Regions from separate parts of the Homo sapiens genome. Here region 2 is linked to region 1. The links come from fine-mapping of genetic effects on gene expression. A gene starts in region 1. The other region holds a variant in brackets. All regions are shown on one strand. Distances are between the middles of the regions. Region 1 holds the start of CLVS2 (clavesin 2). Region 2 overlaps CLVS2 (clavesin 2).

Evidence for each region. PIP is the estimated chance that this variant, and not a neighbour inherited with it, causes the effect.
Region 2: its variant is the best candidate, but not a certain one, in a credible set for the expression of CLVS2 in sigmoid colon (GTEx, PIP 0.81).

The regions. Positions count from the first base shown.
Region 1 is chr6:122,988,270-123,004,273 of GRCh38, forward strand. It overlaps CLVS2 (clavesin 2), which reads left to right and starts at 7,966. Exons shown (of 6, transcript NM_001010852.4): 1 at 7,966-8,477; 2 at 8,950-9,897. The coding sequence starts at 9,509. It overlaps LOC124901392 (a long non-coding RNA gene), which reads right to left and starts at 6,651. Exons shown (of 2, transcript XR_007059733.1): 1 at 6,313-6,651; 2 at 5,026-6,217.
Region 2 is chr6:123,051,567-123,066,657 of GRCh38, forward strand. It overlaps CLVS2 (clavesin 2), which reads left to right. Exons shown (of 6, transcript NM_001010852.4): 5 at 4,240-4,460; 6 at 12,108-15,091. The coding sequence ends at 12,195. Among named protein-coding and RNA genes, the nearest start is that of CLVS2, 63 kb to the left of the region's middle. The variant T/TATATA (reference allele first, on the strand shown) is at 10,302.

The sequences.
Region 1 (16,004 bases):
ACTATGAAGAAACTACATCAACTAATGGGCAAAATAACCAGCTACCATCATAATGACAGGATCAAATTCACGCATAACAATACTAACCTTAAATATAAGTGGGCTAAATGCCCCAATTAAAAGACACAGACTAGAAAATTGGATAAAGAGTCAAGTCTGATCGGTGTGCTGTATTCACGAGACCCATCTCGCATGCAAAGACACACATAGGCTCAAAATAAAGGGATGGAGGAATATTTACCAAGCAGATGGAAAGAAAAAAAAAATCAGGGGTTGCAATCATAGTCTCTGATAAAATAGACTTTAAACCAACAAAGATTAAAAAAAAACAAATAAGGGCATTACATAATGGGAATGGGACCAATGCAACAAGAAGAGCTAACTATCCTAAATATATATGCAACCAATACAGAAGCACTCAGATTCATAAAGCAAGTTCTTAGAGACCTACAAAGACACTTAGACTCCCACACAATAATAGTGGGAGACATTAACACCCCACTGTCAATATGAGACAGATCAACGAGACAGAAAATTAACAAGGATATTCAGGACTTGAACCCAGCTCTGGACCAAGAGAACCTAATAGACATTTACAGAACTCTCCACCCCAAATCAATAGAACTTACGTTCTTCTCAGCACCACATCGCACTTATTATAAAATTGACCACATAATTGGAAGTGAAACACTCCTCAGCAAATGCAAAAGAACAGAAATCATAACAAACAGTCTCTCAGACCACAGTGCAATCAAATTAGTACTCAGGATTAAGAAACTCACTCAAAACCACATAACTACATGGAAACTGAACAACCTACTCCTGAATGACTACTGGGTAAATAACAAAATTAAGGCAGAAATAAATAAGTTCTTTGAAACCAATGAGAACAAAGAACCAATATACTAGAATCTCTGAGACACAGCTAAAGCAGAGTATAGAGGGAAATTTATAGCACTAAATGCCCACAGGAGAAAGTGGGAAAGATCTAAAGTCAACACCCTAACATCACAATTAAAGGAACTAGAGAAGCAAGAGCAAACAAACTGAAAAGCTAGCAGAAGACAAGAAATAACTAAGATCAGAGCAGAACTGAAGGAGACAGAGACACGAAAAACCCTTTAAAAAATCAATGAATCCAGGAGCTGGTTTTTTGAAAAGATTAACAAAACAGATAGACTGCTAGCCATACTAATAAAGAAGAAAAGAGAGAAGAACCAAATAGACACAATAAAAAATGATAAAGGGGCGATCACCACTGATCCCACAGAAGTACAAACTACCATCAGGGAATACTATAAACACCTCTACTCAAATAAACTAGAAATTCTAGAAGAAATGGATAAATTCCTGGATACATACAGCCTCCCAAGACTAAACCAGGAAGAAGCTGAATCCCTGAATAGACCAATAATCGGTTCTGAAATTGAGGCAGTAATTAATATCCTACCAAACAAAAAAAGCCCAGGACCAGATGGGTTCAAGCCGAATTCTACCAGAGTTACAAAGAGGAGCTGGTACCGTTCCTTCTGAAACTGTTCCAAACAATAGAAAAAGAGGGACTCCTCCCTGTCTCATTTTATGAGGCCGCATCATCCTGATACCAAAACCTGGCAGAGACACAACAACAACAACAAAAAGAAAACTTCAGGGAAATATCCCTGAAGAACGTCAATGAAAAAATCCTCATTAAAATACTGACAAATCGAATCCAGCAGCACATCAAAAAGCTTATTCACCATGATCAAGTTGGCTTCATCCCTGGGATGCAAGGCTGGTTCAACATACACAAATCAATAAATGTAATCCATCACATAAACAGAACCAATGACAAAAAACACATGATTATCTCAATAGATGCAGAAAAGGCCTTCGATAAAGTTCAACACCGCTTCATGCTAAAAACTCTCAATAAACTAGGTATTGACGGAATGTATCTCAAAATAATAACAGCTATTTTTGACAAACCCACAGCCAATATATTGAATGGGCAAAAGCTGGAAGCATTCCCTTTGAAAACTGGCACAAGACAAGGATGCTCTCTCTTACCACTCCTATTCAACATACTATTGGAAGTTCTGGCCAGGGCAATTAGGCAAGAAAAAGAAGTAAAGGACACTCAAATAGGAAGGGAGGAAGTCAAATTGTCTCTGTTTGCAGATGACATAATTGTATATTTAGAAAACCCCAGCGTCTCAGTCTAAAATCTCCTTAGGCTGATAAGCAACTTCAGCAAAGTCTCAGGATACAAAATCAATGTGCAAAAAATCACAAGAGTACCTATACACCAAAATAGACAGAGAGCCAAATCATGAGTGAACTCCCATTCACAATTGCTCCAAAGAGAATAAAATAACTAGAAATACAACTTACAAGGGATGTGAAGGACCTCTTCAAGGAGAACTACAAACCACAGATCAAGGAAATAAGAGAGGACACAAACAAATGAAAAAACATTTTATGCTCATGGATAGGAATAATCAATACCGTGAAAACGACCATATTTCCCAAAGTAATTTATAGATTCAATGCTATCCCCATCAAGCTATCATTGACTTTCTTCACAGAATTACAAAAACTACTTTAAATTTCATGGGGAACCAAAAAAGAGCCCATATAACCAAGACAATCCTAAGCAAAAAGAACAAAGCTGGAGGCATCATGCTACCTGACTTCAAACTATACTACAAGGCTACAGTAACCAAAACAGCATGATACCAGTACCAAAACAGATATACAGATCAATGGAACAGAACAGAGCCCTCAGAAATAACACCACACATCTACAGACATAGGAATGGGCAAAGACTTCATGACTAAAACACCAAAAGCAATGGCAACAAAAGCCAAAATTGACAAGTGAGATCTAATTAAACTAAAGAGCTTCTGCACAGCAAAAGAAACTATCATCAGAGTGAACAGGCAACCTACAGAATGGGAGAAAATTTTTGCAGTCTATCCATCTGACAAAGGGCTAATATCCAGAATCTACAAGGAACTTAAACAAATTTATAAGGAAAAAACAACCCCATGAAAAAGTGGGCACAGGATATCAACAGCCACTTCTCAAAAGAAGACATTTATGTGGCCAAAAAACATGAAAAAAAGCTCATCAGAAATATGCTGAAAATTAAAGATGAGAAGAGAAAATAAAATCAGGCAGAGACAAATAAGAGATTACTTTCAAAGGAATAATGAAAAAATTGAGTTAACTTGACTACAGAAATAAGACAAGCCAGAGAAAAAGAAAAAAAATATTTAAAGTATTGAAAGGAAACAGCTGCTAATTTAGAATCCTATAGCTTACAAATATGTTTTTAGAGTAAAAGTAAAATAACTTTCAGACAAATAAAACAAATAATTTACAACCCTCAGATCTGTACTAAAGGACACATTATAATGTGTTCAAGTGAAAAAACAAACAAATCACTACTATATGGAAACTCAGAGATACGGGAAGGAATAAAGAAGAGTAAAAAGGATACATATGGGGTTAAATCTAAAGCATTGATTCTCAAATTTCAGTGTAAATTAGAATCATTCAAAGGACTGAGCAGAAAACTTTGTGAGTCTCTGAATTTTAGGGAGGATTTCTGATTCAATATGTCAGGCATGGGAGTTTACATTTCTAACAAGTTCTCAGGTAATTCTAATGCTGCTGGTCTGGGACCCACATTTTGGGAACCACTGAGGAATATTGGTTGTATAAAAAAAGGTGGAGTTTAAAATTTACATTAAATCACAATCTACTCGCATGTGAAAAATTATTTTTGTGTGACAACAGTTGCGCTGTCTAGTAGGGAAAAAAAGATGATCTTTTTGATAGTCTCCGTAAATGGTACTGAGTAAACAGGTTATTCACATAGAAAAAAATTACTTGACCTATTTCTCACATTATGAGCAAAATACAATCTGGTGAATTGCAAGTCTAAATGTGAAAGGCAACAACAATAAAATTTCTAGACAGTAAACTGGAGAATAAATATCTGAGTAATTATGGGATATTCTAAGCAGGACCTAAAAAGCACTATTCATAGGAGAAAAACTGAATTACCTAAAAATTTAAAATTATGTTGATTAAGAGACAGGGCTAAGAGAGTGAAAGAAACAAGCCATGGACATGGAGAAGATATTCACAACATGTGCAGCTGACAAAGGGTTTATATTCAGAATCTATAAAGAAGCTCTACAATTCAATATTAAAGCAATCAACACCCCACTATAAACATCAGCAAAATCTCTGAAATGACACTTCACACAAATAATGTACAAATGGCCCAAAAAACGTGAAAGTTTAACCTCATTAGTAGTGATGGGAAAGCATACCAAAACCATAATACAATACCCTTGTTCAAAATCAGAATGGATAAAGTTAAAATTATAGACAATAATAAGATTTCTGAGAACATGGCACAGTAAGAACACTCATATATTGCTGGGGGTTGGTGAAACAACCATTTGGAAAACAGTTTGGCATTATTTACTAAATTTGGAGATGCACATTACATATGACCCAGAAATTTTCATTCCTAGGTCTCTCCATGTGCACCAAAAGACATGTGCCAGAATCTTCATACATCATGGTTCATAAGAGCTCCAAACTGAAAACAACCCAAATTTCCCTCCACAGTAGAATGACACACATATTGTAGTAGGTGTATAAAAATGAAATTCTACGGCTGGGTGCGGTGGCTCATGCCTGTAATCCCAGCACTTTGGGAGGCCGAGGCTGGAAGATCATGAAGTCAGGAGTTCATAACTAGCCTAACCAACATGGTTAAACCCTGTCTCTACGAAAAATACAAAAATTAGCCAGGAGTGGTGGCGTGTGCCTGTAATTCCAGCTACTCAGGAGGCTGAGGCAGGAGAATCACTTGAACCTGGGAGGCGCAGGTTGCAGTGAGCCAGGATCACCCCATTGCACTCCAGCCTGGGTGACAGAGGGAGACTCCGTCTCAGGAAAAAAAGAAATGCAATTTTATGCACCATTACTGAATATGAGGGAGCTGCTACATACAACAACACTGACAAAGACAAATCACACAAATTTAATATTGAATGAAAGAGGTCAATCATAACATTACATATAAATGATTACATTTAAGTTCAGAAACAGAAAAACAAAATTGTAGTTATTTAGTTGGTAAAATTTAAAAAAAACAAACAAGGATTACTTTTAAAATAAAGACAGTGTGGCTTCCTTTGTTGGAAAGAGGCCAGTAGTTAGGAGGGGAATGGGAGGGGGCTTTCTGGCTACTGACAATGCTTGGTTTCTTAACCTGGTTGGACACTTACATGTGTGTTTCCCTTGTAAGATAGAATTGAGCCGTACATCTTTATTTTGTGCTCCTTTTTGTGCATATATTTTATTTAACAATAAAGGGAATAAAATGTTTTAAAACATAAAGTACTTACTCTACTCATTTTAAATATAGCAGTAAACCAAACTTTTCTTTCTAGTTACTTGAAAACACCTGAAGTCCTTGATTTAATTATTTTTCCAATAATGCTTTAATTAATACTTTTGTTTAGATAATTTATTCTCATATTCCAGTTCCTACATTACTTTGCATTAATTTGGCAAGGTAGATTAATATTGAATGAAAATCAAATGCTCTGATGTCATCTGAATAAACACCTTGTTTAATTTTAGATGGCTTCGTGTATTCATTTTGGTTTCAGAACTGAGTTCAAATGTATAAGTAGAGAGAGAATAACAGTATAATCACTAAAGTTTTGTAAATATGATTTAAAAATCTTATATATACCTAACTGACCTGCTCCAACAATCCTACTGGGTGATAGAGACTATTTCTATCATATGTAGATATGTTAAAATAAATCTATTTGAAGCAATTCTGTTATTGGTAAATAATAAATAATAAAAATGTCATCCTTCAACCTTCAATACTGGTCATAACATATGCTGGGCCAAAAAATACATTTTATTTTATAAATTCCCTTAAAAATATAGTCTAATATGTCCATCTCAGAGAACAAAATTAAACAACTGTTTTTTCATCAAGGTGAAAGATCTGAATTTTAACTTCACTTACAGGCTAACAAGTTAGCTGGCTGTAGTTTCATGGATGCCGATGGAAGATGCAAAACTCTTGGCTTCGAGATAAAGGATTTTGTCACTCAGGCATAGCGGGCAGTATGAGCATCTGCATATCTTGCATTGACTGGTCCCCTGAGCTCTAATTCCCACAGATAGCTAAGAAAAGAGGATCAAGTGATACTGGCATAAACAATGGGTGGCATTACAGCAGAATAGCTCTGAGTTTAGGGAATTCAAATAAGCTTGCCTACCTTTTGGTCAGGAGAGAGATATCACAGCTTTCAAGGCTTTGTTTCAGATGGAGGTACTATCTCTATCTTCCAATATCTTCCAAGACTATTTACTGTACAAATACCCTTGAGAAGACAGTCTAGAAAAAAGGGCAATTAGTGCCTTGGTCATAAGACAGGTAGAAACACAACGGATCCAGGGAGAATTGTCTCTCCATGTTGGTGATGACTAAAACTTCTTCATACAGTTGATACGAAACATAAATTTTCTTCAACCTCTAAAATATTAGAAAAAATGATTTTTTCAAATGTTTTAAAATGAGAACCAAAAATTTAACAGTTCACATTGCATTCAGCATGCTTGAGAAAGTCATAATCACTTAAAATCCTAGAAGGACCTTATATATAGTGCATATATATAACACACATATACACACACTTAAGTGGTTTATTTTCTGCCTTCCCCATTTAAAACATAAATTCCTTGACAATAATGACTGTGTGTGTGTGTGTGTGTGTGTGTGTAATTTATTGTCTTATTCGGGTTCCTACATTAATTTGCATTAATTTAATTAATAAATGCTCTAGCTCTACCATACAACCCTTTTCCTTCTTTCTTTTTATCAACACCATCGCCATGAGAAGAGCAAAAACAAGTGTGCCTGTATTTTGAGGGTTCTCATAGTCATCAACATTGAAAATGACAAGATAAGAAATGTCAAGATAAGAAAATGACAAAATTTGCTTATCTTCAAGACCACCTCCTATACACAGAATGCAGAAAAATGCCCCACACCTCGTGGAACTCAGTAAATATTAGTTGCATTGAATTAACTTCAATTCAAGACCCCATTCTACAGTTTATAAAGTCAAAAGTTGCTCTTAGTAACACGCTCAGTAATATGTGCTGTGTTTTGAAAATAGAAAATATCCCTTTTCCTCAAATCCATAGATAGTCATATTAAGCGCAAGGACTTCTGTTTATTTATAATGATTCTCATATACAGATGCATACAACTGAAGGAAGGATGGTATGTGTTTCCAGAAATATTTGCTTTATGATGAGATATGAGTGAAGTTCCTATTTTTTTCTTCCTTTGAGAATTATGTTTTTATTATCATTTACCCTAGTGCTCATTTTCATCCTCTTCAACAGAAATTTAGCAGGGAGACTGGTTGAAAAACTATTCATATAAGTTCCTCCGGAGGCTTAATCATCAGTACATTGTCTTGGAACCACTCTGGTGTTTTCTAAATTAAATATCTCTGTCTACAACAAATGCGAAAAGTACAGAATGTTTCCGTACTCCTTCTACATCAAAATTGCCTCCTACAGGAACGAGAAAATGCGTGTCAATGTGAATTACCGTCTACAACAGCTACTCTCCAGGCTGATCTGGGGTCTTGCACACAAAGGGCGAAGAGAGGGGCGTGGGGAGGCTGGAAAGCATGGTTGCCCCGCCTGGCCCGGCGACGCCCGCTCAGCAGCCTGCTGAGGAGTGGGGACGAAGAGCAGCCTAAACTTAGGGCTCGGGATATTTCGATGCCACCCAAATTGCCGTCCTACCCCAACGAGGCAGGGAAAGGAGCGGAGCGCGCGCGCGAGCTGAGTGAGTGCTTACGTCGCAGCGAGATCTGTGCTGGGATAATTAGAGAGGAGTTGGGCTGAGCCGAGTCCTCTTTCAGCAGCAGCAGCCGGAGCCGCCGCCGCAGCCCGGTGGGGCAACCCTGACTCGGACCGCTCGGGAGAGCCCCAGGAGAGGCCAGCGCCGCGCAGCAGCCGCCCCGCTGCGCCCACCTCCCCGGCTGCTCCCGGAGGGCTCACAAAGGCGGTGGCCGCCCGAGTGGCCTTCTCCATCCAGGCGTTCGCGTCCTCCTCCCCACCTTCTCTCCCGAAGGCGAAAATGGCAGGGCCAGGCGAGAACCTGGGACAGCGGTGGCCCTAGCCCTGCGATCCTCACCCCTCCTGCTAGGAGAGGCTGCGGGCTGCCCGCGGACGATGTGGCCGCGGCTGCTCCCGAGCGCATCTTCGGCCCGGGTCCCCGCCGCCACCCCTCTTCTCTGCTCCTTCCATCCCGCCCAGAGGAGTTGATGCCGCTGTCGCCGCCGCCGCCGCTGCTGAAGCCGCGGCTGATGGATGCCAGGGAGTGCCGCATTGCTTAGCGACCCCGCCTCTGGGTTTGCTGGTAGGAGCGGCTGCTCTTTCTTCTTTCTTGCTTTGGGGTTTTATAGAAAAGATAAGGACATTTTTATTTTATTCTTCACAACGTCCTCCCCTTCTCTTCGTTTTTGAAATGTGCATTCCCAGAGATATCCCCGGTCCCCTCCCTCCCCCTCCCCCCTTTTCTCCAACCCCGCGGCAAGTCCGTGGAAATGAAGGGCTAGAGGAAGGCAGAAGTTGGGGGTGGGGTTGGGGGAGCCCACGCTGGTACCAACGCCACCAGAACCCCTGCTGGTGCCTTATGAGATCACGGTGTATCTCAGAGGGGTGGTGGGAAGGTGCGCTATCTGCAGAGTCTTCACCTAATTGGATCACAATAATCTTAAATAAATCACACAAATTTGTCTTTTAAAAATAGCGTCTTTGAATAAGTACAGGGAGAAATAATCTCCTTTCTCCCCCCTCTTTCTCTCTGTCTCTTTTTCTTTCTGGCAAAGATGATCTCTCTCCGCCCTGGAGCTCAGCGCTGAAGAGCTACCTTATTATTAATCAGAATTTCCATCGCCACCCCTGGCAGGCGTATCCTTCAGCAGGGACCGCAGGAACATTCACAGTGCAGGGGCTGAGATGTGCGTGGGGGTTGTTTTTGTTACATCTTGGAAGAGAAGAGAAGAGGACAGTACCAAGATCAGAAACACCCGTGCTAGGTGGAATTAGGGGTGATTTGTTAGGAAAGAGAAAGGACAAGAAGAGGAGTGCGGAGCCCTTCAGGGGTTCACATCTCTTTAAAGGAAAGGAAAGAGGGAGCCAAAGTAGGGTGTTGTATTTTAGGGGGCAGAGGAAGAAGTTTACACCCCCCGGCCCCCCCAGCTTTGCTGGGGGAAAGCAGGAGCAACAGGGCACTTGATTGGACACCAAGATTATTAATTTCCTGTAGGGGAGAGGAAGCAGGCAGCAGGAGGTCTGGGGGCTGGAGTCTGGTGGTGGCAAGGACCAGGTTTGCTTTGGGACAGTCAACAAGGTCTTCTGAGGGAAAGCTCAGAGATAGGCAGAACAATGACTCATTTGCAAGCCGGTCTCTCCCCTGAGACCCTGGAGAAAGCTCGCCTGGAGCTCAATGAAAACCCAGACACGCTGCACCAGGACATCCAGGAGGTGAGGGATATGGTCATCACCAGGCCGGACATTGGCTTTCTGCGCACGGATGATGCCTTCATCTTACGCTTCTTGCGGGCTAGGAAGTTTCATCACTTTGAGGCCTTCCGCCTCCTGGCGCAGTACTTTGAGTACCGGCAGCAGAACCTGGACATGTTCAAAAGCTTTAAGGCCACCGACCCTGGCATCAAGCAGGCACTGAAGGATGGCTTCCCTGGGGGCCTGGCCAATCTGGACCACTATGGCAGGAAGATTCTAGTCCTTTTTGCTGCCAATTGGGATCAGAGCAGGTAAATCCTAAATCCAAACTTGTATTCTCCTTTTACTCTCCCATTTTCCAGAATTTACCCCGAGTAGTGTCATGGTTTTGTAGATTTGATATTTTTGTTTATTTGGCTTGGAGAAAAGAGAAACAAACCAGGAGATGAGTTTTTGGTGGGCACCCTGGGAAGGGAGGAGGGCTTGTATTTTTACTTTTAAAACTTACTTCACTAACACCCACTTTCTACTGCAGCTTTAAGGTGCTACCTTAACCACGTTATTGCACAGAGATCTAAATCACTTAACTTGTAAATAAAGCTTCTCTGTATGTTTCACCTTCTGAAAAAGTTTATTGGGCTGGATAAACCAGTAAGAAAATGGGGACAACTTTTCCTCCTTCTTCCTAAAAAAATTCTTAAACTAGACCCATCATCATTGTCATCATCATCATCATCATCCTCTCTTTGGTACTGACGTTTTATCTTTTAAGCATAGCCTGGCGTTCGACCAAAAGCAAGTAGTTTTGTTGCTTGGGAAGTTCTCTGTTTGGTGATGTGTAGAAGAAGGAATAATATGATTTGTGTCCCTTCAGTGAAAGGAAGAGTTGCATCCTCTGTCGCTGAGCATGCCTGCTGACACTGAAAATGTACACTGACTGGTGTATGTGTCCTACACCTGCCACTAATCTAAAGAATCTGTCTCCTGTCTCATGTGATTTTTCATCTTTTGGAAGGAAGTGGAAAATATTCAGATGTGTCAGTTGGTGGACTTTTTGAGCTCATGTGCTACTTAATAGAGAAGAAATAATATTCTTTTTATCTACATTATTATAGAAAAATGCAGGCAATGACACTTCTCTGTCCTCCTTCAGAACTGTTTTCTCAGACTGAAAGATATAAGAAATTATAAAAGGCTCTTGTGCAAGGTAGTTTCAATTAAGTTCAAAGTTAAATATATTTCATGGGACTTAAAATGCTACCAGAGCTATGAATCATAAGAAGCTGCTTGTTAAAACATTGGTGTATTTTTAGTTCTGTGAATGGTGACTTTCAATGCATCTGGTTAGTTTAAATCATCTCTGGAGCCATCGTACAAGACATTTACAGTTACCAAGAGGGCTTATGGATCATAGAGATTTCCAGATAGGCTTCCGAGTCTTGGTATCTTAGAATGTAAATTAATATTTTTAATTATTTTTTCTCTCATTTTATTGTGATTTTTTTCCCTGTAATTCTAGGTTGACAATCACTCCAATTTTTTTAGGCAAATAGAAAGACAAACTACTACCTGAAGATTCATAATGCTAAGAAACTCATACAGAGTTAGCCATTCAGAGGGAATGGAGTTTTGTTACTTACTTTGGCCAGTTATAGAGATGTTATTCCACTTTTTATCAGGTAGCTGAAAATTTTAAAGAATTACAACTTTTTATTCATTGACCACAATTTTTGTTTAAAAATGTTTTCTTTTCATCCTAAAAGTACATTGTAGGATCATGCAAATCAATGACTGTGTATAACAGAACTGAAAAATTTTATTCAAGGAAAAAACTAATATTCTGTATGTCAGATTGGAACTTTGTTAATTGAGCTATAGTGAAATGGAACCTGGAAATTTTATATTTATATAAATCTCGAAGTCTGTTAGAGATACCATTATGGGGGCAGATTGCATTCAGAGAGGCATACATATATATCAGACCTATTTTCATGAATTTCTATAAGTGAACTAATATTCATAATTATTTGTAAACCTAATTAAGATGAAAGTCACTTATAGTTTTCATATATATGAGAAAGTGATAATTCTGAATTTATTAGAGACACTGTGTTTTAGTTGTCTATCTCATGCTTCCATATAAAGGGCAGACAACTAGTAATCAAATTCTCTTTCCCTAGAAATCTATAATGGAAACGGAGTTAATAATTGGTATATAGAATTACATTTCATTAAACTTACACATAATCTTAAATACTAAAATGTGTATTAGAACAAAATGAGAAGCTGTGTTCTGTAGAAATTTCCTGTCAAGATGTCTAGACTTGTAATTATGAATTCTATTTCTATGGTTGGAAATAAACAGGTATAATCAAGAAATTATCGCACCTCAAGGTGAAAAGGTATACAAGTGATTTAGAGCTTAGTCAAAATTTCAGTTGAATTTCTTCCTATATTAAAAAAATAATAATTCCCTCTTCTTTCCCACCTTCCTTTTATCCTAAATCTACATAACCCAATGACAGGGACTAGTAGACAAACAGATCTGTCACCTTTGCACCCTCTATAAACCTTTATCACTGGAGCATGTGCATAAAAACGTCCTTGGCTCCTGCTCTGAAACTCAAAGGACAGCTGCCTTTCTGCCAATGCCAGGATGTTACCAACACTTCTTAGCCTGAGTCCCTTTCCTCTACCCCGAAGGCTCCTTGACTCCTACAGAAGTCTGCCTCTTTCCCTAGGTGTTTAAGTTACTATTATTGCTCTGTTAGGTGGATAATGCCATGTGCTAGTTTCTCTTATCCCTCATCCCTCCCCTGTTCTGTGAGTGAGATGTTCTCACCTTCCAGGCCCTGATCCCACCAATCCAAAGCTACCTGGATTTCTCCAGAAGACTGCATGTCTGAAAATAATCCTGGCAACATTCTTTGAGTTGTTAAGTGAAGCACCTGGCTTTCAACAACTTTCTTAAAAAGTAGCCTGTTTTAAAGAAACAGTGTGTGAGAAGTGTAGATGATTACATAGATAAATTCTAGAAATGAGGCGGAAGAAAATGCCTCAGTTTATTTGGAAAACAGGTTATTTATAATTTTCCAACTACAAAAGGAAAAACAAGATTTTATGAATTTTGAAACAATTCGTAAAGACCCCCAATAGAATTGATCTAACAAAAAGACTGTCATGTTATTATATTTAGTACGGCACTTGAACTAGAGTAGATGCTCAATAAATATTTGAGTTGAATTGAGTTATGCATTTGTATAAAAAGAATTCTGAGTAGAGATTTATTTGATATACGCTTTCTCCTATATGAAATTTGTAGGACAGTTTTCTGTGCTCTTCAGGACACTGAAAACAGTAAAACCGTGTGAGACAGTGACTATAAATAAAATAGTGTCTGTTTCTGCTGCAATTTAGTGTAGTTTACTTTTAGGTTATTGTAAAGAATTGGATGATTTCCAAAGCCTTTTTGAGAGACATGGCATCATTAAGAAGACTAACATAAAATCCTAATATTTACAGTGTACCCACCTTCTAACAAATCTAAAAAAAAATGGAAATACTCAAATGTCAAAATGAGTTGCAGTGTGGCCTGTGGTTCTTCCAAAAAACAATAGGGCAAGCCCAGATGACCTGTTACATTTATTGAGCTGTACCTTGGAAAAGATTCATATAATTTTATCTCCTTTTAGATTGCCTTACATAATTTCTGACAACAAAAGTAAATGCCATGGAATTAAAAACTATTTGACTGTTACACTGCATCACAAAGATGCCTTCGTCCTCCATGTATTGCATATTGTTTTCCTTCCTAAATGGTAGTGACCTGCTTAGGACTCAGCAAATACCTTCAAATGGTTCGCAGGATCTTATCAACAGGTGTGAGGATAATGTGCCGTAAAGCTAGCAGAGGTTAACACTGCTGGAGAAAAGGAAGCTTGGAAAGAAAGTACATGGCATTCTAGGTCCTAGAGCATGCAAGCATGTATCTAGGAAGTTGAAATCCACTGTCACATAATTGTTGGAGATATTCATGAGTGAAATTGTGTCACCTGAAACATAATGATGATAGGAAGTGTCAGAGTTCACCTGTAAGTTGTCAGCCTGCAAGTCATATTTTATTTCTCTAGATCTCATTAGAAGTATGTACTTCACTATACTTTAGTACAGCAAACAACCATTTATCTGGAATATGGTTAATAGTCATTAGAAACAGTAATTCTCAGTAATTCTCTGAACTTTAGTATAGCAAACAACCATTTATCTGGAATCTAGTTAATGGCCATTCGAAAACAAACACAGTTAGAACCAAAATGATTCTTAATATGGTGGCAATCCAGAAAGCACTGGCCACCTTGCATGGTCTTTGGCTTATCATAGTGGACATTGATTACCACTTACAGTAGCGAAGCTCTGGAAGGGGCAGAAAACTGATTGGTCAGACATTGATATGATACTCTAACTTATCCTGGAATTTGCCCAAAAAACTTGTCAGTTTGCTCCTATTGTGTGGCTTTTTCATTCAAAAGCAAACATTGTATGAATGGTTGCTATTTGTGGTTCAGTTTGAATTATGATTATGCTTGCATTTACTAAAATAATATGGCCAATGTTCAGAATAGAAGGTTATGGTGATGATAACTTACAATTTAAAACATAGCCATAGACTACACAGATGGGCATTAATGCCAATCACAAAGCTTTACTCATCTCTGGAATTGTACTAAAAATAATAAAATAAAATAAAATAAAATAAAATAAAATGAACAGGAATAGATTAAAACAGTCCAGGGCAATTATCCAGATAATTATGGAGAAATATTTTTACTCTGCAACAAAAAAAGCAAAAAAATAAGAAGTTTAATTTTTCAGCTTAATTTTTCAAGAATTCTTTTCTCAGTTTATTAACATATTAAATAATTCCCAGCTTTTTGCTTCACATTGTCATACCTACTGGCAGAGTCTGGAGTCTAGGAGTCCTTTTCGTAAAAATTCTGGAGGCATGGCTTTGCCATCTTTTGGGTGGATACTGGTTAGGGCAAAACCACAAATGGCAGATATGTATTCCATGGGACTTCTCTCCCAGCAGAGCTTCCATCTTGCTTCCTTTCAGGGAAACTCTTTTAACAAATCCTCTGCTAACTGCAACTTATTCCAAACTATAATCTTGGTACATATCATGGCAAATAGGGGAGGAAAAAAAGTTGTCCTGAGAAATGTTGGAGGAATATGGTGATGAATCTCTGCAAAAATAGGACAATCTCCAAAAACTGGGGCAATTATGCAATAATTAGTAAAATAATCCCGAAATAACAGCAAAAACTACAAGTGCCAACCTTCAGTAGGACGTTGACTAAGGCTGGCCTGAGCCAAGCTATTTTCATGTTTCAAAATCAACTTTAAAGAAGGTCGAGAAGCAAAGGACTTGAGGTTACTACGGTGTCCTGAAAGGATGCCTCAAAAGAAATGTTTAAAGATATTTTAAAACATGAGCCAATAGTTAGTATATTAAGAAGTTATCCTTAGTAAATTAATACATCTCCTCCTTTCTGTGGGAAATGTTAAATTCTCTTACTTTACTGAGGGCAGGTACATCTATTTCACTATTATAGTAAGTGGCTATTACACTATTATCGTAACATGAAGGAAAGGATACTCCTGTATGTGGGATCGTTATGATACCATATGACAAACTGAGTGATTAATATTTTGGTCAAATTAATTGAAAAAAATACACTTTGAGAATTTGTTATGTACATAGCATTTTAGTAGGTACTGGGGGCAAATAAAGACACATACTTTGTACTTTTAAGCAATATGTAACCTCTCTGGGAAGAAAAAACATGTAAAGCTGAGTAACTATCAGAGGTCATATGCAGCTAATGAGGACACTGTTTACCAGTGCTAGAAGCTGGGGACAGGTGGGCAGCTGTGGGCTACTCAGTGTTGTGTAGGAAAGACATTGCCTGCTTGGTTAACTGAATTCAACATTTATTGTTCCATTTTATTCATTATTCATTTCAAAATAATTCTACTGTGTGTATTGTAGCAATTAAGTACTTCACTCATGATCATACAACTGGTAAGTGAATTAGTCGCTTTTTGTGTGTGTGTGTGTAGACAGTTACCAACCTAAATCTAGGGAAAGGCAAATGTATAAAAAAAATCAAATTCTGATAATTAAAGATAATTCCATCTATGGTTTAGAAAATCTCGATTAAATATAACAAAACAGGCAATTAGGAACAGAACGTTAAGATGGAAGAATAAACTTTCTGAAGTCAAAGACTTTAGTTAACTAGATGTTTGCTTAGAGTACTTGGCCCTGATAAAAATAATTGCTTTCTGATGTGTTTGTATTCTCCCAGCACAATTCTGTTTTATTTTGTTTTATTTTTTGGTGGCAATAGATGCAAAA
Region 2 (15,091 bases), 63 kb after region 1:
TTAAAAGTTGATGGGAAACAGGTTTTCCTACTAATTGGCACAAATTTCTTCCTTTTAGTCAATATGGCCAATGTTGTCTTCTACTCCTTGTTGATTCTCAAAAGACTTTCATCTGTTCTTTTTCACTCCAGATCACTTAGCATAATCTCTTTAATAGCACAGTGTAGAAAAGTAAAATAAAAAATGGAAGTATTATTCAGGCTAATTCTCAGAATTGTAAGGTATTCAGAGGCACAGGAACCAACAAGGACCAAACTTCTTGCATGAAATGGAGGAAGGAAAAACATATAAGGAGAGAAAAATAGTAAAATGTTAATAAATGATGTTATTACACAGAACTAGTGAAAACAAAGAAAAATCCAAAAGTAGAAACTTAACAATTGGGCAATTGCAATGCATCTTTACTGCCTGGTCCAGAGATGCAATTCACATGTAAGAGTTCTAAAAGAGCATCATCATATAATATATATTTTTTCAACAAATCTTGGCTTTGGAGAAATAAGAGCATTATACTTAATGAATTGCCAAGACAATATATGCATGATTTAAGTAAGGAAATTATATGATATATTAGAAGTTGGGAGGTGCTGTCAAGAAACATGATACATAGAAAGTGGATAGGCTTCCCAGGTTGGGCAGGGTTACAGTATTAAATAGGTTTACCAAGGAAGGCCTTCCTGACAAGGGGCCTTTTAAGAAGAGATGTGCAGGATGTAGGTCAACAAGCCATGAGGACATTTGGGAGTAGAAATCTCCAGACAGAAGAAATATCCATTATAAATGTTCTGAGGCAAGTGCATAGAAGGAGATGGGTTCAAAGAAGTAATTCTTATAGGACCTTATAGTTTCATGCTAAGAGAAAGAAGTCAATGGGGAATTGTGAGGAGAAAGATATGACCTGACTTATATTTTGACATGGTCATTCTGGCTGCCCTGTTGAGAATAGAGTGTAGGTGGAAGAGTGGATATAGAGAGGACAGTTAGGAGGCTCATGCAAGAGCACACCTGAAAGGATAGTAGCTGTGTTATGGGTGTAGGGGTAGAGCTAATCAGAATGATTGGATTTGGGATACATTTTGAGGATAGCACCAAAAAGATTTACTGACAACTGAGATGATGAGGGGAGTAAAGGGCTGAGTTGAAAGTTTTGGTCTGAGAAAGTGGAAGAATAGTGACACCATTAACTGATGTTGGAGATAGGGAGGAGCATATTTGAGGTGGGGGAAGATTATGAGTCCAATTTTGAACACGTTAAATTTGCAGCAGCCATTGAATATTTAAGTGGATATTTTAAGTGGAGAGTGGAAATACAGTTATGGAGTTTGAAAAAGGGGCCTGGATTCAAGACATATATTTCTAGTGCAGGGATATTATTTTAAAGCCACTGACTGAATAAAATGAACTTAAAGAAATCACCAATGAGAAAATATAGTTAAAGAAGAGAAAAAATCCAAAGACTGAGACCAGTAGTTCTCCAGTTAAAATATTAGGAAAATCAGGCCAGGCGCAGTGGCTCGCGCCTGTAATCCCAGCACTTTGGGAGGCCAAGGCGAGTGGATCATGAGGTCAGGAGATCAAGACCATCCTGGCTAACATGGTGAAACCCCGTCTCTACTAAAATACAAAAAAATTAACGGGGCATGATGGCGCGCCTGTAGTCCCAGCTACTCGAGAGGCTGAGGCAGGAGAATCGCTTGAACCCAGGAGGCGGAGGTTGCAGTGAGCTGAGATCGCAGCACTACACTCCAGCCTGGGTGACAGAGTAAGACTCTGTCTAAAAGCAAACAAACAAACAAACAAAAAAGATATTAGGGCAATCAGCAAAAGAGACTGCCAAGAAGTATTTAGGATGGTAGAAGAAAATCAGAAATGCATGAAGAAAATGTTTCAATAAACAGAGTCATCTATTATACCCATTGCTACGGAGGGTTAAAGATATATAAGGACTGGGAATTGGATACTGAATTTAGCAATGAGAAGGACCTTGACAAAAGTTGTTTTCATTCAGTGGTAAGAGACAAAGCCAGACTGGATTCCATTTAGGAAAAATGAGGAGAGTATTTGGACTATGAATATAGACAATTCCTTGGGTGAATTTTGCTATAAAGAGAAGGAGAGAAATAGGAAAGCAACTGGAGATGGAAGTAGGGCCGAGAGAGGTTTTATGTGTCTGTGTGGGGGGCGTGGAGTCAGGATGTTCTTTCTCTGATGGGAAAGATCCAGCAGAGAGAGGAAATCTGAGGATGTGTGAGAGATAGGAGAGAACTGTTAAGAAATACAACCGAGTAGGGGAGAGAGGACGAATTCTAGTGCGCAGGTGGAGAGGTTGCCCTTTGTAGGGTTTATCTGTTCATTGTACTAGCAGTGAAGGCAAAATACATAGACACAGATGCTGGTGGGTGGGTTGATGTCATCTGGTTGTCCTATTTTCTTAGTGAAAGTGGAAGCAAGGCCAAAGCGGAAAATGATGCTGCGGAAGGAGGCAACAGAGTGTTAGAGAAGAGAGAGGAAGTAGCGTGCTAGGATTACACTGACTGCTCCAAGGATTTATTACCATGACTCTTGCATGAGTTGAAGAAGATTTCTTATGTGAATGATCCCATTTGATAAAATAAAAGTTATATATCTAATAAAATAAGGGTTGCATGTGCCATAACTTAACTTTCACAGGAAAATTATTTTCATTTCTTCTTATAAGAAGAACACAGGGGTGCACATGTGTTTTCCTGGATATAAATACTGGCTGTTGTGCCCTCAGACAGGAGAGGGAAGGTGTAAAGTTTGCAGTTAACCTGGTGTACTTTGGGGCAGATGGCCTCTTCCACCTCCTGTGGGCCTCATGTCATGTACTCCAGACAGCTGTTTGCTCTGCCTATTTTGGCCAGTGACCTGCTGTTTCTGCTTTTACTCTTCTATAATTTGTTGAAAATGCTTATTAAGTGGCAACTACCATCTTCTAATTTTATTTGATATTGTAGAGTAATCTTTCTTTGTTTCCCAATGTATTTACTTCAGTGGATTCTGAAGGTACAGAAAGCAAATATGAATGTGTTAGCTTATTCTTCTTGAACTCAAGAATGAAATTATTTTTATGACTTACTATAATTTTGAAATAAATATTATATAAATGTAGATGAGACAACAGTGTTGTAGCAGAGAAGGCCAATCTGTAGTTTTGAAACTGAAATGAAAGAAGAGCAAAGGTAGCAGTTTATGGAAAAACAAATCTTGAGTATGTGGCTTGAATATGCCTCAAGTTTTTTTTTTTTTAAAGCACTATTTAGGATGGTAGAAGAAAATCAGAAATGCATGAAGAAAATGTTTCAATAAACAGAGTCATCTATTATACCCATTGCTACTGAGGGTTAAAGATATATAAGGACTGGGAATTGGATACTGAATTTAGCAATGAGAAGGACCTTGACAAAAGTTGTTTTCATTCAGTGGTAAGAGACAAAGCCAGACTGGATTCCATTTAGGAAAAATGAGGAGAGCATTTTGTCTATAATCATAGACAAAATGATTAAGGTATGCATACAGCTTTACATTTTTAATTCATTGTTTCTTTTTCTATTTGGACAGTCAGTATGGAAATCTTTAGTAGAGAAGATACTGGCAACATTACAGAACATAATGTCCTTTGGGACATGAACTTCACTCAGCCTTTCATTATGACGATGCTAATCTACTTTGGTTATTTACATCACCCACTTTGCATTATAAAACAGTAATTTAGTGGTTACAATATTCTTATTTTTATTGATGATAAAGAGAAAGCCTTGCAAGTGACAGCTTTTTGGTGTAATAACTTGCATAGGCTCTGTAATTGATGAGTCCCTTATGAGAAGGGTCTGTTTTCACAGCATTCATTATACACATCATCAAGTTTGCACAACTAACACCAGGATGATGTACAGATCAGCATGTACGTATTATTCTGCCCATGTCCCTGCCTATGAAGAAGGAAACCAAATTTGTGGTTGCAGCTCTTTTACCCAATAACTCTCTGACCTTCCAGAAATTACTTAAAGTGTCTGAGCCTCAGGATTTTGGTATGATATATTAGGATAACAGTACCAGCTCTGCCTGTTTTACAGAGTAGATGACTGGCTAAAGTACTTTAACAGACATGCGAAACTCATATTTGCTATTGCTATCCTCACATCCCCCCTGTAGGATTTAGATGGTATTTAGTTTCCTCTGTGTCTTTCCCTTCCTCCCGTCTTCTTGCATTTATAGATATTTTTGCATGGTAACAACCTGAACAGTCTACACCAACTAATTCATCCTGAGATCCTGCCCTCTGAGTTTGGAGGAATGCTGCCTCCTTATGACATGGGGACATGGGCAAGAACACTGCTAGACCATGAATATGACGATGACAGCGAGTACAATGTAGACTCCTACAGCATGCCTGTGAAGGAAGTAGAGAAGGAACTCTCCCCAAAGTCCATGAAGAGGTATGCTGGAGGTAGACTGGGGAGTGGGCTGGGCCAGGGCAGGGAGAGGCATCCTGAGTCAAACTCAAAGCTTTCTGTTTTTCTGTATACATTTTTCTGGTGGGATTTTAAAACTCTTTATGCCCTATGATTGTATGTCTAAGAGTTTTGAGTCAAAGATAAAGTCATTTTCTTATAGTGAGAACATTTAAAATTTATTCTCTTAGCGGTTTTCAAATATACAATACATTATTATCATATATTTGAAAACTGTAGTAACCCTGATGTATGATAGATCTCCCAAACTTATTCTTCCTGTCTAATTGAAACTTTGTACTTTTTGATGAATATCTCCCTATCCACCCCCCCAAACCATCCTGCCTCATCCCAGTGCTTGGTAACCACCATTCTACTATCTATTTCTATGAGTTCGACTTTTTTTAGATTCCACATATAAGTGAAATCATGCAGTATTTTTCCATCACATTGTATTCCATAACTATATGCAATTATCTGTCAATTAAGGAAAAGATAAAGTAATTTGAGGTAACCTCAACTTAGTGTTGTTCCAAATTCACAGACAGTCTAGCAGGGCCCTTGGAAGTCACCAAATCTGGTGGTTTTCAAATTGTATCCTGAGAAACCAAAGGTTTTGAGGGGGTGCCTTAGGCCAAGTAGGTGGAGTAGAGAGAGTGCCCATTTCCACTGTTGTGGGAGCAACTCTCCTATAAGCAATTTATTGGATTTCTGTGTAAGATTTCTTTTGAAGAAAGCAACCACACACACCAGTTCAAACACTGTGTTCAAAGTTTCTGGTCCTTTTTCAATATCTCTGCCAAGTCTTTGTCTAAAGGTCTAAACATTACTGGTACAAAACATTGTATTTCACTTCAGTTTTAATCTTTATAGAGTTCATTGTTGAGTCAGAGTCCAAATACCTGCTTTGACTCTCACAGCACTTTTATGCCTTTTATCTTTCAATCAATAGTCTGGGGAGTTGTCAGACATTGCACAAATGCATACCTGGCTCTGAGTTTGCATTCTGTCACAAACAAGTAGATGTGTAATTCTCAGACTTCCCAGGCAACCACAGCTCAGGGTCCATTTGGATAACAGTAACAAATATTACTTCTCCAGTTCATTTCACATTCACAGAAGTATGGGCACCGTAGCCCCTGCAAGTCTCCCCTCACCTAGCTCAGGGAGGATACAAGGACAATGAACGGGTCATGCCAATGTCTGGCATCCTTCTCTGATGAAAGCCTTAAGGCCCTTTGCCCATAGCTCTGACTCATGGAGTAATGTGCCTGTTCTTTAAGGATGGTCTTCTTTTTTTTTTTTTTTTTTTTTTTTTTTTTTTGAGATGAGTCTAGCTCTGTCTCCCAGGCTAGAGTGCAATGGCGCGATCATGATTCACTGCAACCTCCACCTCCCTAGTTCAAGGGATTCTCCTGCCTCAGCCTCTGGAGTAGCTGGGATTACAGGCTCCCAACACTGCACCCAGCTAATTTTTGTACTTTTAGTGGGACAGGGTTTCACCATCTTGTCCAGGCTAGTGTCAAACTCCTGACCTCATGATCCACCTGCCTCGGCCTCCAAAATACTGGGATTACAGGAGTGAGCCATTGCGCCTGGCCAGGATGGTCTCTTTTATGCTGCTGCCTCTGTTGTGATTGTTGTTAGTATGTGTGTGCATTGATTTCCTCTCTCCAGGCTGCTGCACAACTCCTTGGAGAGAACGGAAAGGCCAGAAATTTTCCCTGCTCTAATTTTCCACTAGTTAGCAAGCTTATATTTAAACCAACTTTAGGCTTCTTAACTCCCTTCTTTTAGAACAGAACTTCTCAAGATCTCTGCTCTCCTAAGGGGTTCATGGATGGGCTCTCAAAGGATTCTGTTAAGTGCTAAAAGTTGTATGCAAAATTTTGTGTGCGTAAGTATGAATGTACTATATGTATATGTCATGCATATATTTTCTGGGGAGAAGTCATATATTTCATCAAATTATTTGAAAGTTTTTAAAAACAAAAGTGGTTAAAAGCAACTCCCCCTAAAATAGTTTTCTTCTAATAAAATAATCCTAATGATAACAGTTGTTATAATCTATCATTTACTAGGTACTTTTCATGAAGTAGGTGTCTTTTTTTTACATTAATTTATAAATCCTCACAACAACCGTGTTAAACAGATACTGCATCCTCAACGTTAGGTAGTCTATATATAGTGGAGCAGAGGGCTCCACTGCATGAGATGTGGAGTCTTTCACACCACTGACATAAAGCCTGCCTACCCTTCGTGGCACAGAGGCCCTTTCTCAGAACTGAACTACATAAGGATTTGGAGGCAGCTGTCATCGGTGTCCACTAGTGTTCTTCTTTGTCAGCTAATGAGGCCCTTTTTCTTCAGCCATTCTGCCTGAGGCATGATTCCTCATGTGGCCCATCACGTGAGCACATTTTTCTCTGTATCTTCTACACATCACCTGCACTCTGCTCAGCTGCACCCACCCCCTAAAAATTATTTAACTGTTCTTGTTGATTCCAGCCTTACCTGCTCCCCTACTCCCAATTTATTATCCACATGGCAATCCAAAAATCTTTTTAAAATATGAATCAGACCATGTCACATCTTGGCTTTATTTTTATTTTTATTTTTGTTTTTTTGAGGCAGGTTCTCTTTGTGTTGCCCAGGCTGGAGCGCAGTGGCGTGATCATGGCTCACTGCAGCCTCCAACTCCCTGGACTCAAGCAATGCTACCACCTCAGCTCCACAAGTAACTGGGACTACAAGTGCCTGTCACCATGACTAGTTAATTTTTTATTTTTATTTTTTTGTAGAGACCAGGTCTCACTATGTTGCCCAGACTGGTCTCAAACTCCTGGCCTCAAGTGATCCACCTGCCTCAGCCTCTCAAAGCACTGGGATTACAGGTGTGAGCCACCAGGCAGGCCTTAGCTTTATATTTTTAATGACTGCTATTTATACAATGAATACAATCACCTCCTTATCATGGCTTACAAGATGCTACCTGATCTGACCCTGCCTCCCTCTCTCCTCCAGGTGTATCCTGTCTGCTTCCTCTTCCCCTGCTTTTCAGACACATTAGTCTTCTCTTTTTGCCCTTGTCACCGCCACCTGGAATGTTCTTTTCCTTCATCTTCAAATGGGTGGTCCCAATCAAAGGTCAGCTCCTCGAAAGAGTCTTTTGATCTTTGTCACCCACCTGGTCTTAGTCAGTTCTGTTTCCTCTTCATTCTGGTCACTCCCTGTCCATCACCCTTCTTTATTTTATTCTCTTCATAACACTTTTAGCCTTTGAAATTGCTGATTTTGTTTAATTTTATATCTGCACCCCACCCCAAAGTAAGCTTCAAGGAGACCATATTGTCTATGTTTACCTTATTCTCTGAATCCCCAGTGCCTGGAGAAGGTCCTGGAAAAACAGAGGGTGCTCAGGAAATACCAGTTGAATGCATGGAGGAGTGCTCTGCTGCCCATCAGTGGCCCCCTTTAAGTGCAGTATTCATAACTGAATAGGGAACATCTAACCTGGTATTGGCACTTGCATTTAAGTTGCAGAGTTCTGGCTTTGCAGGATAGACCTCACTGGCTTCTTTGGGTTGCTGTTGTTGTCACTGTTGCTATTGTTCAAGCAGCCAAAACTGACTGGTATGGGGGTTCCTAAAACTGGAAAGTCTCTTTACTTACCAATCCATATCCTCCTATTGTTTAGGTTTGTCCTCCAATCACATTATTTTAATTGATTAAGGCCCATCTTGTTAGATATAGCCTAGTCTATCCACCTTTTGTATCCTGATTCTTTTCTCCAATTAAATAGACCATTTTCTCCCCTACACACTTTGCTTGTAGCCCATTAGTGGCCCCAGTCCTGAGTTTCCTGCTGGTGTCATGGGCTGATTAGAGTTTTAGGCATTGTTTGGTGTACGTTTGGTATCATATGAAACATTTATGATTCTATGGAAAACTGAAAAATGAGATTAAGAAAGGTGTTGCACTTGATTCTCATGTTCTCTATGTCAGGGAATGGCAGTTCGCCATCCAGGACAAGAGAAGATTGCTCCTATGTTCCACACTGATTCCCCTTGGCCCTTTTCTTTTTGTAGTTTTATGATATCTTTAGATTAAGAGGGAGAAAATAATTCCATCACTAAAGAGTTGTGGATAATTCTTCTTTTGGGTAAATGTAGCTAGACATGCAAAAAGATGACTTGTCTTTTTGTATTAATTTCTGGAGGAGAAGCATAGTCATGTGTAAATATGCAAAGTTCACTAGACTAAGTATTTTAGAACTGGAGAGTGTCTTTTACCTTATGCCGCCAATGCCTAAGATAGTGCCTGGCACATAACAGTAGTGAGTAAAGTAACCATACCTATTTCATGATACGCACTTCTGATTATTGAATATTGAATATATTATTATTGAATAAGGTTAAGCATTTATTATTGCTTTGTGCCAAACCCTGTTCCAATGCTCTATGTATGTTGATTCATTTGCTTCTTGAAGCAAGTAATAAAGTAGTAGTATCCCCATTTTATTGATAGAGAGACTGAGAAACAGGAAAGGTAAGTGACTTCCACATGTTGCATAACTACAAAGTAGCAATGCTAATATCTGTACATAGGCAATAGTATTCCATGAGCCATTTCATTAACCATATGCCAGAATTTGTGCCGGGGTTTATGGATGCATTGTTGCATCTGATACTCATTATAACTTTATGATGTGGGTATTATTTTTCCCATCTTAAACAATAAAGAACAAAATCTTAGGAAGTTTAGTCTTCCCATGATCACACAGCTAGTAAACTGCTGTTATTAGCAACTGGAGTTATGATCTACTTCTGTCCGAAATCTAGTTTCTTAAACACTATGTATTGTAGATGCATGAGAAATGAGTATTGGATATCTAAATCTAAATTACTAGTTTTCAAGAAAGAAAGAAAAGTTATTCATTGTGAAAACAATAGAAGCTGCATAGAAACCCCTGAGATGGGCTGGGCACAGTGGCCCATGCCTGTAATCCCAGCACTTTGGGAGGCCAAAGCGGGTGGATCACTTGAGGTCAGGAGTTTGAGACCAGCCTGGTCAACATGGTGAAACCTCATTTCTACTAAACATACAAAAATTAGCCAGGCATGGTGGTGCACGCTTGTAATCCTGGCTACTTGGGGGAGGTGGGAGCATCAGTTGAACCCGGGAGGCGGAGGTTGCGGTGAGCCGAGATGGTGCCACTGCACTCCAGCCTGGGTGACACAGTGAGTCTTTGCCTCAAACAAAACAAAACCGAAAAAAAAAAACCCAGAAACCTCTGAGATGTATGAGTTAATGATAGCTCCCTCTGCTGTGGCTAGAATAAATCAATTCATTAATACTTCTGATCCTGCACAAATAATCCTGTTCTGTCATAAAAGAGACTAAAAAAAAATTGGACTAAAATAACTATACACTTGGGACAACTAAATACCAAAAAGAAAAAGAATTAATCACAAATTGTTTCTGACTCACTTTTGTTCTGTGATTGAGGCATTGTTTCACATATGGAATCAGCATTCATCATCCAACAATCCTCATATCTGTAGTGCATACTAAAAGCAAACTAGAAACTTAATCCCAGCTTGAATAATACACTGTAATTTAAAATATTTTGTTAAAAATGTCATATTCTCTAATATTGTTTTCAAAAACAGTCAGGAAACACACAGACTTAGAATGTGTATATGTGAGCATGTCTGTATAATGTGTAATAGTATATTAGGGCAAATGCTTAACTATTGTGCCTTGTGCAGTCTGAAGAGCTTTGGTATGTACTTATGGAATATTATTAGGATATACCTCAATATT[T/TATATA]ATATATTTAATTTTATGAAAAATTTAAAATTTATTTTCTATAAAGAAAACAGAATTGCTTTCTTTATTATCCTCATTACTCTTCATTTTGAGTTCTTAATACTGAAGTTCTTTCAATTTGGAAATTATTTACTGGCTAGAAGTCAAGACATGAAGAACTTACTCTTTTCCAAGCCCTATGATGCATGTTGTATTCACAATAAGGAAAGAAACTGATAAAGTCCCTGCTTATGGAACTTGCAGTCTAGTGCATATCAGTTGTCAGGTTAATACTTTAGCACAGGACATTAAATGAGCCTCTTTCTCTTTGAACATGAATTCATCTGAGAGCCAATTTGCTTGGTTGGGTCTTACCTAAAAACAAAGTTAGAAGTCTAATTACTTAGTCTTTTGTGCAATTGTCTCCTTTGTTAAAAAGTATTTTATTCATGTACTTTAAATAAAGATGATTATGTATTATTGCATTTAAAAGTGACACAAAATCTCTATTCTCTCTACTCTTTCTCCTTATTGTCCTTTTCCTCATCCTATTCTTATATTCATATCTTATCCTATTATTATCTTATATCCTCATCTATTCTGTCTTACGCTCACACACACAACTTTAGCAAGTCTTTTTTTTCCATGATAGGCATCTAATGCCTATTTAATATTGAGATAAAATAGTGTAAATGACACTTAGGAAACAAAATCTCTCAATTTTTTAATGCTTTCACCTTCATTTTCATTCCCTCTTTAGGAAATAATTTAAGTTTATTTAAATTTAATCAGTTTATCAGTTAATCCTGTAATTATTTTTTCTTTGATAATTAGTTCCGTTGCTGTTCTTTTTCATTTGCATGTGCAGTTGTGTTTTAGCTTATAGTCTTTTCAGAAGTTAATGAGGTCTGCTAAGAGGCATATTGCCACAGCAAAAGCCAATTGGCTGGAATGCAGCAGCAGGGGAAGAATTCATTACCAAGGAGAATTCTAAAAGGGCAGCTGCTTACTAAATGCTACAGCTATTAAGATGGCAGCTTCCTGCCATGACAGAGCATGTTTCATTGATTTTCCTCTTTCCCATTCTCATATTGTTTCCTAATGACAAATTGAGACAGAAGCCCCACCTGCTATCAAAGGCATGTATAAGTGGGTTTTCAAATTATGTGCTTTCCTAATCATAAACTGTTGCTGCCTAAACAAGAGGGGGTTTTACTTTTTAAAAATCTATAACTGTTCCATGAAATTCTCAAGATGAAGGTTGATTTTATTTGGATATTCTACTAGGACATTTAACAGAAACATACAAATTTTGATCTTTTGGTTGATACAATCATTAAAGTTAAAAAATGACGGTCAAAAAAGGTGCATTCTTGTTGCTTTTTTTTCATATGTTTTTTAAAGACTGGAATTAAGCCTCCTGTTATTTCTATTTAGTTTATCATAATAATCATTTCACTGTAATTTTTTTCCATTTGGAGATGTTTTATTGGAAAACATCTATCCTACACTAGAAATTTGTGATATCTCAAAGAAAAGAATCTTCCCTAACTGTGAAGAGCTCTTAAGCCTGGTATTGTCTATTTAGAATCATTGGCGGCTCACTATTCTATTTAGAGGCCAGAGGGGATTTTTTTCCTCACTCCAGTGCAAAACATCACCAGCAGTGGTTTTTCTCTAAATGTGCAACATCCACAATTCATAAATTTCTTGATATAGAGGAAGGGAATTCACATTCCTGGGAGAAGTAATGACAAAAAGAGGAGAGAATGTCATCTGCACAATTACCTGGTAATAACTCACTGACGTTGGCTTTATCCTTTCCAGATCTCAATCAGTAGTGGATCCTACAGTACTAAAACGCATGGATAAAAATGAGGAAGAAAACATGCAACCATTGCTTTCTCTGGACTAATAACTTCTCTACATCCCCTTCATGGATTAGAAATGGAAAGTATTGGTTTTCAGCAACAGGGACAACACTGTAGAGGAATTACCAGCTGGAAACCGACTTATTCATGTTAATGTAGCATAATATATAACAAGGCATCAGGCTTTCCTTGGCCTGAACCATGGGGGCCCTGGGCTGGATTTTTAAAATGTCAATAATTTATTCTGTAAGTGCCAAGTTGTTTGTAAATATAATGTAATCTTCATGTCAAGTTTGTAAATTTCAGTAGTAACTCAGTTTGGAAAAAGGTTGGCTCAAAAGTCCATGCCAGTGTTATGAACTATAACAAAAAGCAGAAAAGACACAGTCAAAGCTAATTAAATGTAGCCCTCTTTCCTATGAAGCCATATTTCAGCTCTCATAGTGATTGTTTCATTGTTTTTCTCTGAAACTCTGTCAGTATTCAAACATACTCTTAACGGGCACACACAACTAAGTGATTCCAGGAAATTTTATGATTAATGTATTTCCTGTCTAGTGATTTTCATTTCAGAGAAATGTGTCTTAGTAACTATCATTGGCCTTGCATTTTGGAGGCAAGGAATGGCAGATGAGCTGGTAAACTGAACACTTGAACTCTTCTATGTTGTTTAATTCTTGGAATCTTGTGAAAAGATGTGTTTCCTCAATTAAGACGTAGAAATGTAAAAAAGAGTGGATTCTTTTTAAATTGCTGTCTTCACAATGTGCCCTTTATTCAAGACCCTATTATATTTCTTCCTAATGTACTCTAAGTACATTTCCCCTCCAAAACTCTTTGACTAAGAGAATGAGAACTCATGTGAACAGTGTTCTGACAGCTAATTTTGAACATAAAATTTTCCACTTACAGATGAGGGGCTAATTTCTAATTGTTGTGCACTGGTTAAAAAGTATATATATATATATATTCACACATATATATTTTTACTGAGCTCTAATAAATCCTTAATGTGACAGGCTTATAAAATAAATCATAGATATTCAATGATCTTATGGATAATTACATGAGATAACTCTGGAAAACTACTTCCACTGAAGTTAATGAAAAGGAGAAATAGTGAAACTGACTTTCAGTGTACCTATTTAAAGGAATTCCAAGTTAATTTATAATGCAATCTTACATATGTGCCATCTTATTTGAACTATATTTTTCCTTCAAAGAAGCAATAGGTCTCAACATAGTGTAGGTAGCATCAGGTGACAGAAAGCCAATTTTATTTTCAAATTTAAGTTAATTATCTTCGTGATCCTATTTATCCACAATTTCTTTCAGAAAAGACTGAAAAAACACATTATATTCAGGAGATATAATGAAATTATTGGAAGGCATCTATGACAACATGTAATCATTTATACGTGGATTTAGAAATTTGCATATTTAACATTTTATTTCATAAAATTTATACAATTACAGCAAATCTTAATTTTTTAATTTTAAATTTCAATGTGAAAAAATGATTTTTATCACCCATAATAAATTTTGAGATTGAGAGTTTACCATTAAAGTATTCTTTTGGAAGAAAAATATCTCAGAAACTCTTGGAAACCAACAAAAATAAAGGCATGTGTCAGCCTTCATATTTTTTGGCCAAAAGCTCCCAAAATTTGTTATAATTCTGCAGCCAAAAATTGTAAAAGCAAGCTGAATACACCAATGTACAGTGTATCAATGGACTGCCTCATGTGTGTAAAAATACATTAATTAACACAAATGAAAGATACCTTAATAATGCCAACCTCCAGTCAAGTGCAGAAGAATAATGACTGTCAGGCACTCTGCTCTCCTTGTGACTTTTACAGAGATTGGAATGCACTGGGGACAACATGTCTCAGCAGTTCTTACCTTTATAAGAATTCTAACCATTGATATTCTTACATTCTTGCCTACCTGACATACATTTTGTAGCCATGGGCTTTTTAGACTATATAAATCTTAGGCAGTATAATCCATTGGAATAAAATAGAAACATTGTAAGTGCAGAGGGCAGTCAACTTTTCATTCTCATGAGTTTCTCTTGATGTGTACCATTTATTGCCAGTTTTCAGAATTCTGCCAGTTTCAGATGTCAACCAGCATTGGCAGCTTCTTTCCCCTATCGTAAAGTTAGTGTCATATATAAAAATAACTAGAAAGGCATATTTTATATGTATGCCTATCTAATTATAAGTATCATTCACACTGTCTCCCAGACCCACATTTGGAAAGTTTGCATTGCATTACTGCTCATCTTTAGATGAGCAATTGAGAGTTGGCTAGATTGTGTAAAATATTTTAAAATGAATGAACAAATTACAATGATGATGCCTTTTGAAATTACCATATCTAGTTCATTCTGTGAATAAACTCATTTTCTAGTAATGTTTGTGAACCTTAGTCAAGGGATATTCATTCAACTTTATAAATTTACCCCTCAGCACCAGCTATCTAGCACTGTTTAGGAATTTTTCCCTTCATGATATTCTGTGTCACATCCTATGTCTATGAATAACCTATACACTATAGTTGTATGCCTATAAGCACTCCTATACTCTTGTATTTTAATTGCAATAGTATACCTCCACTCTCTCTCTCTCTCTCATACACACACACACACACACTCTTACACACACACTAACACACTAGACTGTTTGCCCTAATGAATTTTCCTCTGTACTTCGAGAGCTATTTTAGTTGTCTTGTCACTTGAAATTTGCGGGCTTCAAAGAATTATCGCATTTGACTTGGAATGGTCCAGTAGTCCATTTACTTCTTTCACCCTGCCTGTTCCATCTTCTATTTCTGATATTTTTTCTTTCTTCCAGTTATTTCAGGGGCAGGTGATTCCAAAGCTGGTTTAAAAATAAATAACTTCTCTTATGTTGTCAGTGATGTTTGCCT